2 separate regions of the Homo sapiens genome follow, and region 2 is linked to region 1. The links come from fine-mapping of genetic effects on gene expression. A gene starts in region 1. The other region holds a variant in brackets. All regions are shown on one strand. Distances are between the middles of the regions.

Region 1 (4,393 bases):
CACCACGCCTGGCTAATTTTTTGTATTTTTTTTTTTTAAGCAGAGACGGGGTTTCACTGTGTTAGCCAGGATGGTCTCGATCTCCTGACCTCGTGATCCGCCCACCTCGGCCTCCCAAAGTGCTGGGATTACAGGAGTGAGCCACCGCACCCATCCCTCACTTGATTCTTACAACAGTCCTCTAGAGTTGACACAGGAGGAAACTGAAACTTAGAGCAATAAAACAACTTGTCCAAAGGTTACGCAGCTGATAAGAGGCAGAGCCAGGCTTTGAAACCAGGTGCTTCCAGCCCTAAAGCCTGCATCCTTTCTTAACCAGTAAGCAAACTGCCCTCATTTACTTATTCATTTAAATGATAAACACATGAGAAGAGCTCGCTAAATTAAAAGCAGATTATTTTACAAGGGAAAAAATGGAAAAGGAAGACCATTTAGGAACGGTTTCCAGTGGAAATAAATCTCCACTTCTCCCACTCTCCTCCCACCATGCAGCTCTTCCGTGCATTTCTTAAATTAAGGTGTGTGGATGTGTACAAATCCCACAGTTTCGTTGTTGATTGGTTGATAACAATGGGGAATTGAGAAGGAGATGGAGTACAAACGGTCAAGGCCTCCTGGCTGGCCACCTGTCATCTACCTTATACTGACCTTGGAGCCCAGAATCCAGTTCATCTAACCACTTGTCCCCATCTGTGTCCAGAATGTCCATCAGGGTGAGGCCTGTTGTGTAGTGCCGGCATCCAAAGAAAGTTCTCTTCTCCCCCACCAGATGGAAGCAGCGGAATCTATCAGCATCAACAAGGCTTCTAACGGCAATCATATCCCCTCCAGCATCCATCTCCTTAACTACAATTCTTGTGATTTCCTCAAATACGCTGAACATTGCGCCTGGACCAACTCAGAAACAGAAGCCAATTTCAGTTTTTGGGAGGAGGGTATTGGTTCAAGTATTTAAATCTTCCACATTTGGCAGCCTGAGGTGTCAGGCCTCTGAACCCAAGCTAAGCCATCATATTCCCTGTGACCTGCATGTATACATCCAGATGGCCTGAAGCAACTGAAGATCCACAAAAGAAATGAAAATAGCCTTAACTGATGACATTCCACCATTGTGATTTGTTCCTGCCCCACCCTGATACAATATAGTCTCCCCGCCGCCGCCCTTAAGAAGGTACTTTGTAATATTCTCCCCTGCCCTTAAGAAGGTACTTTGTAATATTTCTCCACCCTTGAGAATGTACTTTGTAAGCCTATCCCAAACATATAAGAACTAATGATAATGCCACCACCCTTTGCTGACCCCTTTTTTGGACTCAGCTTGCCTGCACCCAGCCTTGTTGCTCATATAAAGCCCGTTTCGTGGACTCTCTTCACATGGACGCACGTGACATGAGGTCAAGGAAGAGCCAAAGGTTCCAGGACAATCAGTACCTGGAATGATTTGCCTGCCTTACTTCTAGAACGTGAGGCAGCCATGACTCAGTAAAGAGGGCTAAACATCACAGATCCCAGATTCTCCTCTGCCCCTCATGGTACCCATCTGGAGGAAAAAAGTAGCAGCTATTGCCCCAAATAGAGAAAGTGAGACCCATTTTCTACATCTCCCACAGCAGAGTTGCCCCCTTGTTCCAAGGGGCCCAAGGGATGGAAAGGCAGGCCCACCATGCCCCAGCCAGACTAGCCCCAACGTTGATGAACAGAGGAACCAGGGAGGAATGACGGGCACGGTTGCCAGACTTCACATTACTAACCTCAACTGGTCGTTTCTTCCCTTGGCTCTGATTCTTGGGCTCCCTGCCTTGCTGTATTCTGCAAGGCAATTGGATGGGTGCCTCCCTACCAACAATTTCCCAATGAGGTGGTGGTAAATTGGCCTCAGAAGAAACAAAAGCTTCCTGGGATCCACTTCCCCATCCTACCTTTGGCCACCTTCCCCTATATCCCTTCTGCCCAGCACAGGCACTTATCCACTCACTGCTTCCTCCTCTGTCTCTGGCCCCATCATGGTGGTTGACTCTCAGTTCACTACCAACCTGGGAATTCTAGGTGTCTGGAAAGACAGTACCCGGGAACCACAGGCCCATCTCAAGTGGTACCCACCTCCTCTCTGACCTCAGCTGTTCACCAGAAATGGAAGTTGTGAGAATCCCCACAGATCTCTGCACAGTTCCTGGCCTCTGAATCTCAGGAAGCTAAAATAATGAAACTGAAAGTTGTCCAGGTGTGGAACTTCCTGGACGGGTGGGTAGGGCTGGGTGCCCCACCTCCCAAGCCTTTAGATAAGCCACCTTATAACTGAGCTGGAGGCAGATTAAGGCCAGAACCCCCCTTTTTTTTTTTTTTTTGAGACGGAGTCTTGCTCTATCGCCGAGGCTGGAGTGCAATGGCGCAATCTCGGCTCACTGCAAGCTCCGCCTCCCAAGTTCACGCCATTCTCCTGCCTCAGCCTCCCGAGTAGCTGGGACTACAGGTGCCTGCCACCACGCCCAGCTAATTTTTTTGTGTGTGTTTTTTAGTAGAGACGGGGTTTCACCGTGTTAGCCAGGATGGTCTCAATCTCCTGACCTTGTGACCCACCCACCTCGGCCTCTCAAAGTGCTGGGATTACAGGTGTGAGCCACCATGCCCGGCCAGAACCCCTTCTTCTTCTTGTACCTAAGGAGTGGGTAGGAGATCCTGGTATGTATTCTAGGTGAGTGTGGGCCAGACAATGGTGCACACCGTGGCGCCCTGGGCCATGCAATCCAGTGTGTTTGGAATAGAGAAATGGAATATGAGTAGGTATCAAGTGCCAGCAGGCAATGGCTGTGTCTGTGCCAGGGACATGAGGACCATAACCCAGCAGAACCAGCTGCCCAAATGCCATGCGACGGTCAACACTGAAGACCCAGGACAACAGCAGCTAACACCTGGAGGCAACAGGGTGGGCCTGTAAGGAGCACTCAGCCTCCCTCCCCATCTCGTGCTCCCGTGTACACTCTCAAGGAGATGCTGGTCTTCCTTATCTGGATGCCATCTGGCTTCTCCACCTACCTCCTTCTCCAGGGAGAGGCCTCTGACCTCACCCATGTCCTCTCTCAGAGATAACCACCCCGGTGAGCCCAGCCTGTCTTCCAGCCTCTGCATGCCTCAGTTCTGAAAGAACATTTGAAGGGATGACAGGCCAGGCGTGGTGGTTCATGCCTGTAATCCCAACACTTTCAGAGGCCGAAGCAGGCAGATCACTTGAGGCCAGGAGTTCAAGACCAGCCTGGCCAACATGGCGAAACCCCGTCTCTACCAAAAAAAAAAAAAAAAAAAAAATTAGCCAGATGTTTTGGCACACACCTGTAATCCCAGCTACTCAGGAGGCTGAGGCATGAGAATTGCTTGAACCTGGGAGGCGGAGGTTGCAGTGAGCCAAGATGGTGCCACTGCACTCCAGCCTGGGCAACAGAGCAAGACTCAGTCTCAAAAAAATAAATAAATAAATAAATAAATAGACGACAGTGGTGGTAGTAACAATTACAATTATAATAATATGGCTACCATATATTGAGTATTTACTATATGCCAGGCACTGTGCTAATGCTCACAACAGCCCTAAGAGGCATTATCTTTACACAACAGTGGAATAAACTGAAGCTCAGAGAAGTTGACACAGCAACATGGCTAATAAGTGGCAAAGCTGGGATTTGAACCCAGATCGTTGTTGATGTTCTCCAGCACCTCACCCTGACTATACTCTTGCAGGCTGGTGAAAGCAACCAGGGCACCCCTACTCCCAGGAGTGAAAGCAGTGGCTATATTTCTCTTTCCAATACTGTGTGGGCTCTACTCGGACAGGGGTGGTGGCTGGACTTGGGCAAATATCCCACACTCCCTGACACTCACTCCAAGGGTGCTGTGATGGTGGACCGGGGCTAGAGACCCCAGGCTGCTGGGGACAGCTCCTCCCTTCTACCTGGGACTTTGTGCCTCTCCTGGGAATAGCAGCTGATACTCCCCAGAACACGCTGGAAGGTCAGTGCCCTCGTGAGATAAGGATTCCTTGCTATAGGACTCCTCTCTCTCCTAGCCATGTTGGCCTCAGAAAGTCCCCAGAACCTCTTCCCCTGCCACTCAGGCTTATGGTGGGAGGAGGAAGTATGAAAAGTCCCCTCCACTGAAAGGCCAGAAGGAAACGCAGCGCTCCCAAGGGAGAGGTGACTGGGGAAAGGCCTTGGGGAGAGAAGTGAGAAACTGGAGAAGGGCTGGGGATTCACTGGGAAGGACTGAGCACCACTTGGGACCCTGGCTCCACGTGTAAACCATTGCTGGAGTGTCCCCCTCCTTGGCCATGGCACAGGTCACCCCAGCCTCTGGGGCCAAGGCGCAAGACCTGTCGGAGAACAGCCAGGCAAAAGCACAGAGA
Region 2 (4,393 bases), 97 kb before region 1:
TGAACCCAAAGTAAATTTATAACATAAATTATAAATTCCCAAACCAACAGTGGCATAGGGATCACTATTTCAACTACAAATTTAATGGTATTACCTACCAGAACTCAGAAACTGTAACTCAGAAAAAAAACAAGCCACAGGCACAGCTATCATTTGCCTCATTCTGAGTGAGACTCCATGGATGTCACCTTCAAGAAGTTGCACGAAGCTGATACAACATCATATGCCTTTCCTCAGCACAAATGACCACATCCTGTGCCAGGCAGCATTTTTCTGTCTCTGTGGTTAAAAACTGGTACAAATTAATGTATAGCTCAGTACAGCTGGAATGTTAGTTGAAGCTGTGATTTGAATCTCAGAAGTTTTAGACAAATAACTCAATTTCTTGGTCTCTTAAGAAATTTAAGACAAAAGAAAAAGACTCTGAGAAATGATTTTCTTTTCTTGAAAAGGAGTCTCACTCTATTGTCCAGGCTGGAGTGCAGTGGTGCAATCTTGGCTCACTGCAACCTCTGCCTCCTGGGCTCAAGTGATCCTCCCACCTCAGCCTCCCAAGTAGCTGGGACTACAGGCACACACAAAGCTAATTAAAAAAAAATTTTTTTTTTGTAGAGATGGGGTTTTACCATGTTGCCCAGGCTGGTCTCGAACTCCTGACCTCCAGAAAAATCCGCCCACCTTGGCCTCTCAAAGTATTGGGATTACAGGCGTGAGCCAAGCCACTGCACCCAGCCTATTTTCTTTTCTTCCTTTAAGAAACTCATGTATACACACATATAACTGACCTAGGGCTTTCATTTAGTCACTTACTCAACAAATATTTATTGCACACCTACCACAGTAGGGCCAGGTACTGTTCTAGGTACTGTAAATATCTAGCAAGGAAAAAAATAGCCCAAGAAGGCTGGAAGGAGAGTAGACACTAAACAAAACTCCAAAGTTATCTGTGTTCAGTGTCATGCGATGAATTAAAACAGGGCTGTGTTAAAATAGTGACTGAATTGTCAGGAAAAGCTTTTCTGAAGAAATGACATTTAAGATGAGATCTGAGTAACAGAGTAACATTCATAAAGCAAAAGTGATTAGATTTATCAACATAAATATCACTATAAAATGTGAGCAATATTAATGTGAATATAATGCTCAAAACTCACAAAAAAGCCTGGAAGTAAGTACTCTGTAATGCTATTAGAGACTATCTTTGGGTGGTAGGATAGAGGTGGGGTTTTCTTTTTTCTTTCTATTTCAATGAACTTTCCAAACTGTGGTATAATACAAAAACATATTTGGTCTTTGTTCCTGCTCCCAGGATCAAGCACAGAACTTCTAAGCCCTTGGAATTTCCTAAGTGATAGGAGTATTGTTTTGCTTTGTTTTGTTTTGTTTTGTTTTTCTCACTAGATCCTCCTGCCTCAGCTTCTAAGTAGCAGGGGCAGGAGTGTCTTTTGTATTCATAACGAGCCCCTTTCAATAGCACCTTAGATTATGCTAACGAGGTAGCTGAGGCTGGGGCCACTAGACAGCCTCAGGATGGAGCTGTTCACCAGAAGGACCTGGTAATTAGAGCGTTGGACCTTTCAGCCCCACCCAGTGACCTCAGGGAAGAAGAGAGAGGAAAGGGAGCTGGAGATTGAGTCCTATAAACGTTCTTGAACAACAAGATTCAGAGAGCTTCAGGAGCTGGGGGTGTGGCATGCCCAGAGAAAGTATGGAAGCTCCACGTCACCCCTTCCTTGCTCTATGCCTCCCTTCCATTTGGCTGTTCCTGAGTTGTATCTTTTATAATAAACTGGTAATGATAAGTAAAGAAACTTTTTGAGCTCTGTGGGTCATTCCAGAAAATTACTAAACCTGAGGAAGGATGTGGGAACACTCAAATTTGCCCAAGTTGGAAGAAGTGTGGGTCACCTGAGGGCCTGGTACTTGAGACTGGTGTCTGAAGTAGGGG[C/T]GGTCTGTGGGACTGAGCCCTTAACCTGTGTGGTCTGTACTAATTCTCAGAGTTAGTATCAGAATTGAATTGAATTGTTGGACACCCAACAACGGAATGGCCTAGAGATTTGGTTGTGGATGGAAAACACCCCAGAATTGGAGTGGGATTTGCTAGATCAGCCCAGGCTCACAGAAACATATGGTTTGGAAGGATAAAATAAAAGGGTAGGGGATGAGGAAATTTTGATTCCTGAGTGGCCATATAGTCACCTAAGGAGCAGCAAAGGGGCTGTGATCAGTTACTAAAGGTAAAAGTTACCAGTGAAATTTAAAGATGAACCCAACTCCTGGGGAGCTGGTTCACTGAATGCTTAAGGAAATGCAAACTAATAAGAAAAAAGTGAAATACACAATCCAATGGTTATTGTTATCTGCAACAGCTAAAATGAAAGTTAAAAAGAGTGTTGGGTTGGACCTTGATGCTGAACCACGCTCAGATTCTGGTGGGCCTGAACTTCGGATGCTAGACCCAAAGCTGCCTCTAATGGAAAAAATATGTGGGAAAAACAGAAAATACCTCTAAGATCTCTGGTCACCAAAAAGAGAGTCCAGGTAGGGGAGGGCAAAACCAAGAAACTACTGAAACCAGGGGGTATAGTGTGAAAGAGTTACTTTATTTTGTAGATCAGTACCATCAGCTTCCTAAAGAATTTTGACTAAAATGAATTGTAAGAATAAATAATTTAGGGGCAGTATCTTGGCTTTTAAATGCTTCAGAGTGGAAGAGCATGTTTGGGTTTATATAGGATCCACAGCTCACTATGGAACAATCACAGATGGCTACACATGATCCAGACACAGAGCAGGTCATTCCTAAGGGAACAGCTGACCTGGTGGACCAGATAAGAGCCATTATAAGGTCTATTTACCCTGAGAAAGGGAACTATCTGACTTCCCCTTTCAATGCCAACTGGAATACCCCAGATGAAGCAGCTGATATGCTTCATATGCAAGCCATGTGGAACTGGCTTTGTGATAATCAAGATTCACACATTGAATATGCCCATTACCCAGGTGATATGGTTTGGCTGTGTCCCCACCCAAATCTCATCTTGAATTGTAAGCCCCATAATCCCATGTCATAGGAGGGACCCAGTGGGAGGTAAATGAATCATGGAGGTGGTTTCCCCCATGCTGTTCTCGTGACAGTGAGTGAGTTCTCACAAGATCTGATGGTTTAATGAGTATCCGATATTTCCCCTCTGGCACTCACTCTCTCTTCTGCCACCCTGTGAAGAGGTACTTTCTGCCATGATTGTAAGTTTCCTGAGGCCTCCCCAGCCATGCAGAACTGTGAGTCAATTAAACTTCTTTTCTTCTTTATAAATTACCCAGTCTTGGGTATTTCTTTCTTTTTTTTTTTTTTTTTTGAGATGGAGTCTTGCTCTGTTGCCCAGCCTGGAGTGCAGTGGCGCGATCTTGGCTCACTGCAAGCTCCGCCTCCTGGATTCACACCATTCTCCTGCCTCAGCCTCCTGAGTAGCTGGAACTACAGGTGCCCACCACCACGCCCAGCTAATTTTTTGTATTTTTAGTAGAGACAGGGTTTCACCATGTTAGCCAAGATGGTCTCGATCTCCTGACCTCATGATCTGCCTGCCTCAGCCTCCCAAAGTGCTGGGATTATAGGCATGAGCCACCGTGCCCAGCTGGGTATTTCTTCATAGCAGTGTGAGAGTGGACTAATTCAGTATATTGGCACCACAGAGAGTGGGGTGCTGCTATAAAGATACCCAAAAATGTGGAAGCAACTTTGGAACTGGGTAAAAGACAGAGGTTGGAACAGTTTGGAGGGCTCAGAAGAAGACAGAAAAATGTGGGAAAGTTTGGAACTTCCTAGAGACTTGGAGGGTTCAGAAGACAGGAAGATGTGGGAAAGCTTGGAACTTCCTAGAGACTTGTTGAATGGTTTCGACCAAAATGCTGACAGTGATATGGACAATGAAGTCCAGGCTGAGGTGGTCTCAGATGGAGATGAGGAACTGCTTGGGAACTGGAGCAAAGGTAACTTTTGCTATGCTTCAGCAAAGAGACTGGCAGTATTTTGCCCCTGCCCTAGAGATCTATGGAACTTTGAACTTGAGAGAGATGATTTAAGGTATCTGGTGGAAGAAATTTCTAAGCAGCAAAGCGTTCAAGAGGAAGCAGGGCATAAAAGTTTGGAAAATTTGCAGCCTGACAATGTGATAGAAAAGAAAAACCCATTTTGAGGAGAAATTCAAACCAGCTGCATAAATTTGCATAAGTAATGAGGTGCCTAATGTTAATTACAAAGACAATGGGGAAAATGGCTCCAAGGCATATCAGAGACCTTCACAGCGGCCCCTCCCATCACAGGCCCAAAGGTCTAGGAGGCAAAAATGGTTTCCTGGGCTGGGTCCAGGGTCACCCTGTTCTGTGCAGG

The links. PIP is the estimated chance that this variant, and not a neighbour inherited with it, causes the effect.
Region 2: its variant is fine-mapped to the expression of GSDMB in whole blood (TOPMed, PIP above 0.99).

What each region holds. Positions count from the first base shown.
Region 1 is chr17:39,916,434-39,920,826 of GRCh38, forward strand. GSDMB (gasdermin B) reads right to left here and starts at 2,202. Exons shown (of 11, transcript NM_001165958.2): 1 at 2,101-2,202; 2 at 649-897. The coding sequence starts at 883. RefSeq lists an enhancer at 1-250, promoters at 802-1,431, 982-1,390, 2,114-2,476 and a cis regulatory region at 2,455-2,468.
Region 2 is chr17:39,819,242-39,823,634 of GRCh38, forward strand. All of the region lies in intron 3 of IKZF3 (IKAROS family zinc finger 3), which reads right to left. Among named protein-coding and RNA genes, the nearest start is that of IKZF3, 43 kb to the right of the region's middle. The variant C/T (reference allele first, on the strand shown) is at 1,949.